Regions from separate parts of the Homo sapiens genome. Here region 2 is linked to region 1. Evidence: fine-mapped expression QTL. Tissue or cell type: whole blood. Region 1 holds a variant in brackets; the other region holds the start of a gene. All regions are shown on one strand. Distances are between the middles of the regions.

What was found. PIP is the estimated chance that this variant, and not a neighbour inherited with it, causes the effect.
Region 2: it holds the start of MTMR3, and the variant in region 1 is fine-mapped to the expression of MTMR3 in whole blood (TOPMed, PIP above 0.99).

What each region holds. Positions count from the first base shown.
Region 1 is chr22:29,966,650-29,971,910 of GRCh38, reverse strand. MTMR3 (myotubularin related protein 3) reads right to left here. Exons shown (of 20, transcript NM_021090.4): 3 at 849-935. The coding sequence starts at 851. Among named protein-coding and RNA genes, the nearest start is that of MIR6818, 38 kb to the left of the region's middle. The variant C/T (reference allele first, on the strand shown) is at 2,120.
Region 2 is chr22:29,880,987-29,885,986 of GRCh38, reverse strand. It overlaps MTMR3 (myotubularin related protein 3), which reads right to left and starts at 2,813. Exons shown (of 20, transcript NM_021090.4): 1 at 2,628-2,813. RefSeq lists silencers at 2,271-2,770, 2,831-3,000 and an enhancer at 2,713-3,007.

The DNA of each region.
Region 1 (5,261 bases):
GCATAAAACAGTTTGGATCTAGGAAACATCACAAGGTAGAAGAAGGACAATATTACAGAGGACCATTTCTTTTTTAAGCCTTGAAGCACTGTTTACATTTCCTCAGGATTGATGAAAATGTGGCTGGCTTGTTGCTCCATCTTCTCTGCTTGAGCTGGGCCCGAAATGGCCCGTAAGTCATTAAATTGTCCATTAAATTCTCTTTCTGGTTAAAGATACAGGAGGGGGTGTGCAGGGCTGCTCCACCTACTATGGGATCAAAATACTGCCTTAAAGAGACAAAACAGGGAAGGTAGGGAATTGCTTCTATAAATTCATAAAGCATATATACTATGTGAAGTAATACATATGTTAATCAGCTTGATTTAGCCATTCCACAAGGTATATATGTATTTCAAAACATTATGCTGTACACAATATATATGTAATTTGTCAATTTAAAAAAATTTTTAAGTAAATATGCAGATTACCATCTTACAATTTGTCTACACACAAACACACACACACAGTTTTCACTACACGCTACTTCCTAGAAAAGGAATTAAAAACCTGGAGTCCGAGAACTGTATGTTTTAGTCTTGATTCCATTTACTTGCTGACTGAAAAATAAGAGACAACATCTAGCTCACAGGATTAAAGTTAACAGAAATGAAACTGCTCTGTATATTGGAGTACTCTATTACTACTAAGTAAACAAGAAAAGAAAAGACACAAGAGATCTGGGAAAGAAAAAGAAATAATTTCTTACAAAAACAAAAATGGGTAAGTATGAATTTATTAGTGTTCACTTAATTGTCAGGACACAGGGTTTTTTGTTTTTTTTTTTACTCTTATTTCCTTGTACTTACCATGACAAGAGGCCCAGATTAGGAGGAGAAATCCCCGTCCCTTCTTCAGTGTCCAACAAGGCTCTCTTCTTTCCCTTATGGTGAAGTCTGGGGGTGGGGGGGAAGAGGGGGAAGAAGAAAAAAAAAAGAGGAGGGGAGGCAAAATTGGCAATAGTTTTTCCCCTAATCGGCCATATCCTCACAAAGGTATTGTATATACACAGGCCTAAGAAGCTGATCAGAGTCAGCCAAGAAAAAGTTGATTATCACCCAGCCAATTCCCACTAGTCAAATCCCAATTTGACAGTTCCTTTGTAAAACTCCTGTTAGTCTTAACCTGTTTCTGCAAAAACAGTATCAAAGGCTAACATTCCTAATGTTCGTAGTAAAACAAAAAATATCATAAAACTTGGATGAATAAAGCAACAATTAAAATCAACCTACAGGCCAGGCAAGGTGGCTTAATGCCTATAATCCCAGCACTTTCGAAGGCTGAGGCAGATAGCCTGAGCTCAGAAGTTTGAGACCAGCCTGGGCAACAGAGTGAAACTCTGTCTCAAAAAAAAAAAAAAAAAAAAAAAAAAAAGCTGGTCATGGCAGCACATGCCTGTAGTCCCAGTTACTCAGGAGGATGAGGTGGGAGGATCAACTGAGCCTGGAAGGTTGGGGCTGTAGTATGCTGTGATTACACCACTGCACTCTAGTCTGGGCAACAGAGCAAGACTCTGTCTCAAAAAAATAAATAACATCAACCTGCAAATGCAAAATCATTATTCTTGTAGTATTTTAGGATGTTTTTGTGGTTATCTCTAAATTCAAAATGGATCCCCCATCTGAGGAAACCAAACTGACTTACGAGCAAAATAGGAAAAATAAATTTGCCTTATTACCCAAATATTCTATGCTCTTCTAAAAACTTACAATCTGTACTAATACCTTTACCTGGTTTTATAAGAACAAAAAAGGGGGAAAGAATATCCAACTAGAAACCCAAAAATAGGCTTATACAAAGAGTAAGTAAGTTGCTCTTTTCTTTGAACAGTCTCATGCAAAACCAACATTTCTAGTTTGCTAAGCTTCTGTAACACAGGATATTTCAGGGAGTCTGGGCTTCAATGTGCAGCATAAAACTCTTTTAAGGGCAATGTAAGCAAGGGAACAAGAGAACATAAAAGCAGTAGCAAGGCCCAGATTGTGTTGAGGCATTTTGAGCAGAGGAATGGTAGGAGATGACTTACTCTAAAGAATCATTTTGGCCGGGTGTGGTGGCTCACGCCTGTAATCCCAGCATT[C/T]TGGGAGGCCAAGGCAGGCAGATCACGAGGTCAGGAGTTCGAGACCAGCCTGGCCAACATAGTGAAACCCCATCTCTACTAAAAATACAAAAAATTAGCAGGGCATGGGGGTGTGTGCCTGTAGTCCCAGCTACTCGGGAGGCTAAGACAGGAGAATAACGTGAACCTGGGAGGCAGAGGTTGCAGTGAGCCGAGATCACGCCATTGCACATCCAGCCCAGGTGACAGTGTGAGACTCAGTCTCAAAAAAAAACCAAAAAAACAAAAAAAAGAATCATTTTGGCTGTTGGGTAGAGAACAGTCAAGGCTACTGGGGGTAAGGGGCAAAAGAAGACCAATTAGAAAGCGTCATTAACCCCAGCAAGAGACAATATAGCAATGAAAAGGTAGTAGAGATAGAAGTGGTGGGATGTTACTGATTCTGGATATACTTTGAAAATACTGCCCATAGGATTTGAGTGGATTAATTAAATAGGATAGAAAAAGAGAAGTCAAGCTTTTTGTGTCAGCAACCGGAAGCAAGGATTTTCTATTTATTGATGAAGAGCATTGTAAGAAAAATCTATTCTTCTCGTGCCATGCAGAGACAGCTCAACGGACAAGGAACAAGAAATTAAAGTTTCCATTTTAGACACATTATGTTTGAAAACCTATCACATATCCAAACAAAGATGCCAAGTAAAGTGCTAGTTAAACCAGACTAGAGATCAAGAAGATGGAGCCTAGAGATATAAACATAAATGTGGGAGACATCAGTGTGTGAATGGCATTAAAGCCAAATGCAGGAGCAAGTATAAATGGAGAGGCTAAGATGACTAAGGACAGGGGTTTTGGGTGCACCATTTTTTAGAGGCTGGAAGGATGAGGAAGAACCTTATGGTTCAGTAACAGACCAAGTTGGAGTCATCATTCTTAACCACTCTTCAAACCAAGCCAAACTTTTGTGATTTGGCCTAGCTCAAGAACTGAAACTAATGTAAAATTATCTCATTTATTCATTCTTTTCAATAAATATTTATTCAATATTTTCTACACTCCATGCACTGTTGTAGACTTTGGGGACACCACTGTGAACAGAAATTCATGGAACTTGATTTTATTGTTGGTCTTTCTCATTAGAAACAAAGAAACAGATAACTAATGTTAAGCAGTAGGCAACTGCTGCAAAGAAAATTAAGCAGAGTTTGGTGATGGTGTAACAGAAATGCTACTTTAGATAGGAAGGTAAAGATGTGCAAAAAGGCACTTATTGGAATTAAAAAGGAGAAGGGCAAAGGCAGAGAAAATTTGAGGGTATGAACTTATTAAAAGAACGGGATACTGTTATAAAGAACCTTTTCAAAAAAGAAACATACTGAATTACTTTTAAAAAACTGTCCTAATATTACACAAAAGATATTTGTGTTTTAGAATAAAATTTCTAAAGATAGCATCATTGACACATTCAAACTGCTGTATCTTAAACAATTTAAATGGAAGTGAATTTAATGCATTTTGCAAAACTATTAAATAACAAAATATAACTCCAGTGAGGAAGATACTAATGTCAGATGTAGATGGAATGTGAAGGTGAAACCCCCATACACTGCCGGCAGGAATGTAAAGTGGTACAACCTCTGAGGAAAAGTGTGGCAGTTCCCAAAAAAGTTTAGAGTCATCATATGTCCCATCAGTTCCACTCCTGGGTATATACCTAAGAGAACTGACAAGGTATGTCCACATAAAAACTTCTACACAAATTTTCGTAACAGCATTATTCATGATGGCCAAAAGTGCAAACAACCCAAATATGCATCAATCAATGAATGGACAAACAAAATGTGAATGGATAAACAAACAAAAAATACACACACACACACACACACACACACACAGTATATATAATGGAGTTATCCAGCAATAAAATGGAATAAAATACTGATACATGACACACATAGATGAAAACATTATGCTAAATGAGAGAACCTGGGGCACAAAAGGCCATATATTGTGTGATTCCATTTGTATGAGATGTCCAGAAAAGGTAAATCCACAGAGACAGAAAGTAGATTAGTGGTTGCCAGGAGCCAGGTTGAGGGAAGAATAGGGAGTGACTGCTAATGGGTACAAGGTACCTTTGCAGGGTGATGAAATGTTTGGAATTAGGTAATGGTAATGGTTCTACAGCTTTATGACTATACTAAAAACCACTGAATTGTATACTTTAAAAGGGTGGATTTTATGTGATATGACTTATAGCTCAAAAAAAAAAAAATACAGAAGCCATGTGCAGTGGCTCACTCTTATAATCCTAGCAATTTGGGAGGCCAGGACAGGAAGACAGCTTGAGCCCCAGAGTTCAACGCCAGCCTGGGCAACATAGCAAGACTGTCTCTACTGAAAAAAAAAAAAAATTAGGTGGTTGTGCACACCTGTAGTCCTAGCCACTTGGGAGGCTGATGTGGAAGGATCCCTTGAGCTCAGGAGTTCAAGGCTGCAGTGAGCTTATGCTACTGCACTCCAGCCTGAGTGACAGAGCAAGACCTTGTCTCTAAAAAACATGCGCGCGCGCGCGCATGCACACACACACACACACACACACACACACACACACACACAACAGAGGTGAAGAGTAACAATATAATCAAACTCTTCATAAGATAAAAATAAACGCTGCAAAAAAGTTACAGTATCAACCCAGCAGCAATGAGCATTCTAAGCCCCTAGACTGTGGTCCCTAAAGACTAATTCCCACTTCAAAAGAAGATGGGGCACCTGAAAGAAAATATAACCAATTCCAGGTCTAGAAAAGAAAATGTACAATTTGATTCTGAAACATCATATTAAACTGGAATGTAAGAAACATATAAAAGACTACTGAGGGTAAGTCAGAAATAATTGGGAGTCAATTTGAAGAGACTCACTAGCTAAAAATGAAATAATTTGAGCAAAATGGTTAAATGCAATGGATTGGGTTTCAGGATGTTTAAATATGAGTTCATAAAGAAACATTCTCTCTCTCACACACACACAGAGACAGACACACACACACACACACACACACACACACACACACACACACACACGCACACCCCTACAGGTCACCAGTGGAAGATGTTAAGGAACTAACCTTTTATTTTTGAAAACTAGCAAGTAAGGGGAA
Region 2 (5,000 bases), 86 kb after region 1:
AATACTACTCTATGATTTGACAGGATATTTACCAAAGCCCTTCACTACTCTACACAATTGTAACAACATTTTCTTCCACCTCTTCCAAACTTGTAAGAACCTTCACCACACCCCCCTCTAAAACACGAATACTTCCTTTGGTAACAGCATTCCACTTTACTGAAGAAGGTGTGAACGTGTTAACTAGAACTACAGCAGATTTTTAAACTGACTTTACCACTCCTCATGGCCTGCGGCAAATCTCAAGAACTTTTCACAATACATAGTAACCCTTCCTGGTTCACAACCCGGGTCTCAAATGATTGCTAACACACCCATCCTACCCTCCACTAGAAATCTGAGTCAGATGGTTTAGGAGCAACCATAATGGTGGGAAGCATCTTCAGTGGACCCCTTTATGAGCCAGAAGCCGACTTACTCCCTCTCCTTCTCTGTTTATTTCCTCTGGATCCTTCAATATATCTCTGGATACAGTATATCTCCAATTAATCAGCATCTAATTTTATCAAGTGTGTTCCTAATAACTTGTTTGCAAATTAACTTTTGGCAACAAATCTGTTTCCCCTACATAAATCCATTATATTTTAAGAGATGCTCAATTTGCATCTCTTTAAGTTTCTCATGCTTCCCCTTCTCCACCTCTTAAATTCTTAAAGATCTATAAACAAAAGCACCCTGAGAAGTCATAATTAATGGGACTTCTTTGGAATACCCAACCTAAAGCAAAAGTTCACATGCCTTGCTGACCAGAATCATTCACGGAGCTTTGTAAGGACAGATCCCCAGGCTCTATCCTCAGAGATTTTAATTCACCAGGTCCTGCATGAGTTCGAGGAATTTAGGTAGTCCATAATATTTCTAATGACCAGCCTTAAACTAGACAACCACTGAAGAACCTGGCCTATGAGCTGAGAAACTCAGGGTTTTTTATGGCTGGTCATTAACGACAAGCGGGGCTGTACCACTGTGCTGGTCACTTGAAGTTCTCTGAGTCACCTGAAAATGAGGGAGTAATTGGAGCCAAAAGAGGTATTCATAGGCAGCCAATCTAAAATTCTAGAATCCTCCAAATTTAATTTAATATCACATACTATACTGGGTTTACTCAAAACAGTGTCATTCTGGCTGGCGGCAGTGGCTCACGCCTATAATCCCAACACTTTCGAAGGCCAACGCAAGCGGATCACTTGAGGTCAAGAGTTCCAGGCCAGCCTGGCCAACATGGTGAAATCCCCGTCTCTACTAAAAATACAAAAATTAGCCAGCCGTGGTGGCGCACACTTGTAATCCCAGCTACTTGGGAGGCTGAGGTGGGAGGATTGCTAGAACCTGGCAGGCGGAGGTTGCAGTGAGCAGAGATCGCACTACTGCACTCCGGCCTGGGCGGGAGAGAGAGATTCTGTCTTAAAAAAAAAAAAAAAAAAAAAAAAAAAAAGTGTCATTCTGTAAGCTCTTCTAGCCTACCCAAGTCATAGGCCCTATAAAGGGAAGACTTTCTGCATGCCATCAATGTCTCCTGTCCTACTGAACAGCCCTGAATCTGAAAGGGGAAGGTCCCCACCACCTCTCCATGGACAAATCACAAACATTTCACATTGAAAAAAATAATAATAATCTCCTGTAATTCAACCCAGGCCTCTTATGGCATTACCATTCACATATGAGAAAGTTGAACCTTAACTAGAAAAGTATATGGTTTTGGGGTTTTGTTTTGTTTTGTTTTGTTTGTTTGGGTTGTGGAAAAATAGATGTCAGAATCAAGATACTACAACAGTAAGAATTTAGGCCTGGGTCTGGAAAGGACATTTGAACATCAATATGTAATAGCAGTCCATGTCCAAAACTCACAAGTGAGATTATCAAATTCCAGGGGAGTCTATTAATGTGGCCAAAAAATCTACCCCATAATTTTGACATAAGTTTTCCAGTCCAAAATACAACCTACAGTATCATCTTATGGGTCCGGAAATGCCATACATCAAGCAAAATTACTACCGGAGAAATAACACTGTAATCATTTGCGGAGCAGTCTGACCAGGGTTCCCTCAGTTACGCCAACCGCCCCCAATCATCCTACCCACCTAAGTACTACCAGGTCAGGGGGATGCCCTGCTGCACGATCGGGCGGTCACTCCTCCTTTCCACAAGGCCCAGGCCCGCACCGTTCGCCCCGGGGCTCCCATGGCCCCTGACCTCCAGTATCCGGCAACGATGGACCGCCACAGACCCGGCAGGGGGCGAAGGGCGCACACCCACCTCCCGGGAGTTCGTGGGAATAACTCCGGGCGCTCCGAGGGTACGTCCCACACCCAGAGCCGCACGGGCCCATCCCCGCCAGGTCTGGGAAGGCAGCCCGAGCCCGGGACCCCGCCTCCCCCGCATCTAGGGTCCGGGCCGAGCTCGGCCGCCGAGCTCCCATTCCCACTCCCACACCCAGCGCCTCCCCCTGGCGGCGACAGCCGCCGGGGACGCCCCTCCCCGGGCCCCGCACGCAGTCCCCAGCCCTCCCAGGGCGCTGCCTCCTCAGAGGGTGACAGCCGCCTGGCCAGGGCCGGGGCCGAGGCCGGCCCCTCCTCCAGCTCTTCCTCACCCGCCGAGGAGACGGAGGACGGGGATGGGGTTCTTACCGGGCAGCAGGACATGGCGAGGCCCTCCACGGCACAGTCTCCCCCTCCGCCACCCCACCAGGCTCCCTGCCAGGGCCGGCGCTGGGCAGCGCCTGAGCCGCTGGGACGTCTCGTCCGGCTGCTACTCCGCCGCCGCCGCCGCCTTCTCACAACCACAACAACATGGCGGCAGCGGCCACACAGAGCGCGCTCCCGACGCCGAGCCGGGCGACGAGCGAGGACGCGCGCGCACGCTCGGGCGCTGAGCCCGGTGTCCGGGAAAGGGGGCGGGTCTCCGCCGGTTGGACGGGGGCGGGGCCTGGACAGGTGGTCACGCCCCAGGAGATGGGCGGGGCTGCAGCTGGGGAGAGGCTCGCGAAAAAGCCCAGCGGAGCAAGAATGGCTAGACAGATGGGAAATGGGTGGAGGAAAAGAGATGACAAAAAAAAATCTGGAAGAAAACCAAAGGTGGTCCTACAGATTTTTAGGAGGCGTCTTTTCCAAGCTCTGTAACCCTGGGCAAGACATGGCTCACTCTACTTACCAGAAAAATAGAACAATAGTGGTATCTTCCACCTGCAATTGTGGTCAGGATAAAACCAGTTTAATATAATGCAAGTAAATATAGTGTTTTAGAAGTTGTATTCAGAATACAATTTCTTTTCTTTTCTTTTCTTTTTTTTTTTTTTTTTTTTTTTTTTGAGACAGAGTCTGGCTCTGTCGCCCAGGCTGGAGTGCAGTGGCATCTCGGCTCACTGCAACCTCTGCCTCCCGGGCTCAAGCGATCCTCACACCTCAGCCTCCTGAGTAGCTGAGACTACAGACTCACAACATCATGCCCGGCTAAATTTTGTATTTTTTGTAGAGATGAGGTTTCTGCCATTTTGTCCAGGCTGATCTCAAACTCCTGGGCTGAAGCAATCCACCCACCTCGGCCTCCCAAAGCGCTGGGATTACAGGCATGAACCACCGCATCCGGTCCAGAATACAATTTCAAACTGATTCAACTTCAGCTCCTAATCAAAAGCTCAGCGGGAAGAAGTGAGTTTTCAAACAAAGTAAAAAACAACTCCCCCAAAAAATTGTAACCTACCCACACTAGCCTGCAGAATTCCACAAACCAGGATTGCATTACCGTAGGCCCTAACAGATTCACCTCCTCTGAGTTGCCTTTTAACATTCTACCCTTGACTTTTCTGGAAACTGGGAGAACTAGTCAAATGAAATCTATTCCTGCGTCTGTTGTAAAGTTTTTCCACAGCACTTTCTGAAATTTATTTTCAATGTTTACTGTCATTTTACTCCACTAAAATGTAAAAGCTACTTGAAGATAAGGATCTTGTCTTGTTCGTCACTGTTTCCCCAGCACCTAGAACTGTGCAGGTTAAGTAGTAGGCAGTCGAATTTCTTGATTAACTAACAGCTGGCTGGGCGCGGGGGCTCACGCCTGTAATCCCAGCACTTTGGGAGGCCAAGGTGAGTGGATCACCTGAACTCAGGTGTTCGATACCAGCCTGGCCAACTTGGTGAAACCCCGGATCTACTAAAAATACAAAAGTTAGCTGGGCATGGTGGCGGGCGCCTGTAATCCCAGCTACTTGGGAGGCTGAGGCAGGAGAATAACTTGAACCCGGGAGGCGGAGGTTGCAGTGAGCTGAGACTGCGCCACCGCACTCCAGCCTGGGCGACAGAGCAAGACTCCGTCTCAAAAAAACGAAACTAAACTAACAGCTAACATTTATTCATACAACTCATCTAATTGAATCTTCACAACTTTAATAGGTAGATGCCATTATCTCCATATTACAGATGAAGAAAGTGAAGCACAGAATAAATTGCGTGTATTAAAACAAAATTCAAACCCAGCAGACAAAAAAAAAAAAAAAATACTGTGCTGTCTTACCCACCAGGCTGTACTGCCCAGTGCATGGACACAGTAGCCTGAAATAAAATCTCAAGTAAGAAATTACTTTAGGCCGGGCGCAGTGGCTCATGCCTGAAATCCCAGCACTTTAGGAGGCCGAGGCAGGTGGATTGCTTGAGCTCAGGAGTTCGAGACCAGCCTAGGCAACATGGCGAAATCCCATCTCTACAAAAAATACCAAAAAACTGGCCAGGCGTGGTGGTGCACGCCTGTAGTCCCAGCTATTTGAGAGGCTGAGGTGGGAGAATGGCTTGAGCCTGGGAGGCAGAGGTTGCAGTGAGCCCTGATTGTGCCACTGCACTCCAATCTGGGTGTCAGAGAGAGAAAAAAGAAAGAACGAAATAAATTACTTTAGAGTTAAAAGCTTGGAAAGCCCTTGCTTTACTACCAGAAAAACCGGTGTGCTTCCTGCTTTTTGATAACTGTTACGCATCTGATTGTGTCTCTCTTTTCACTCTGGCTTCCAGAAA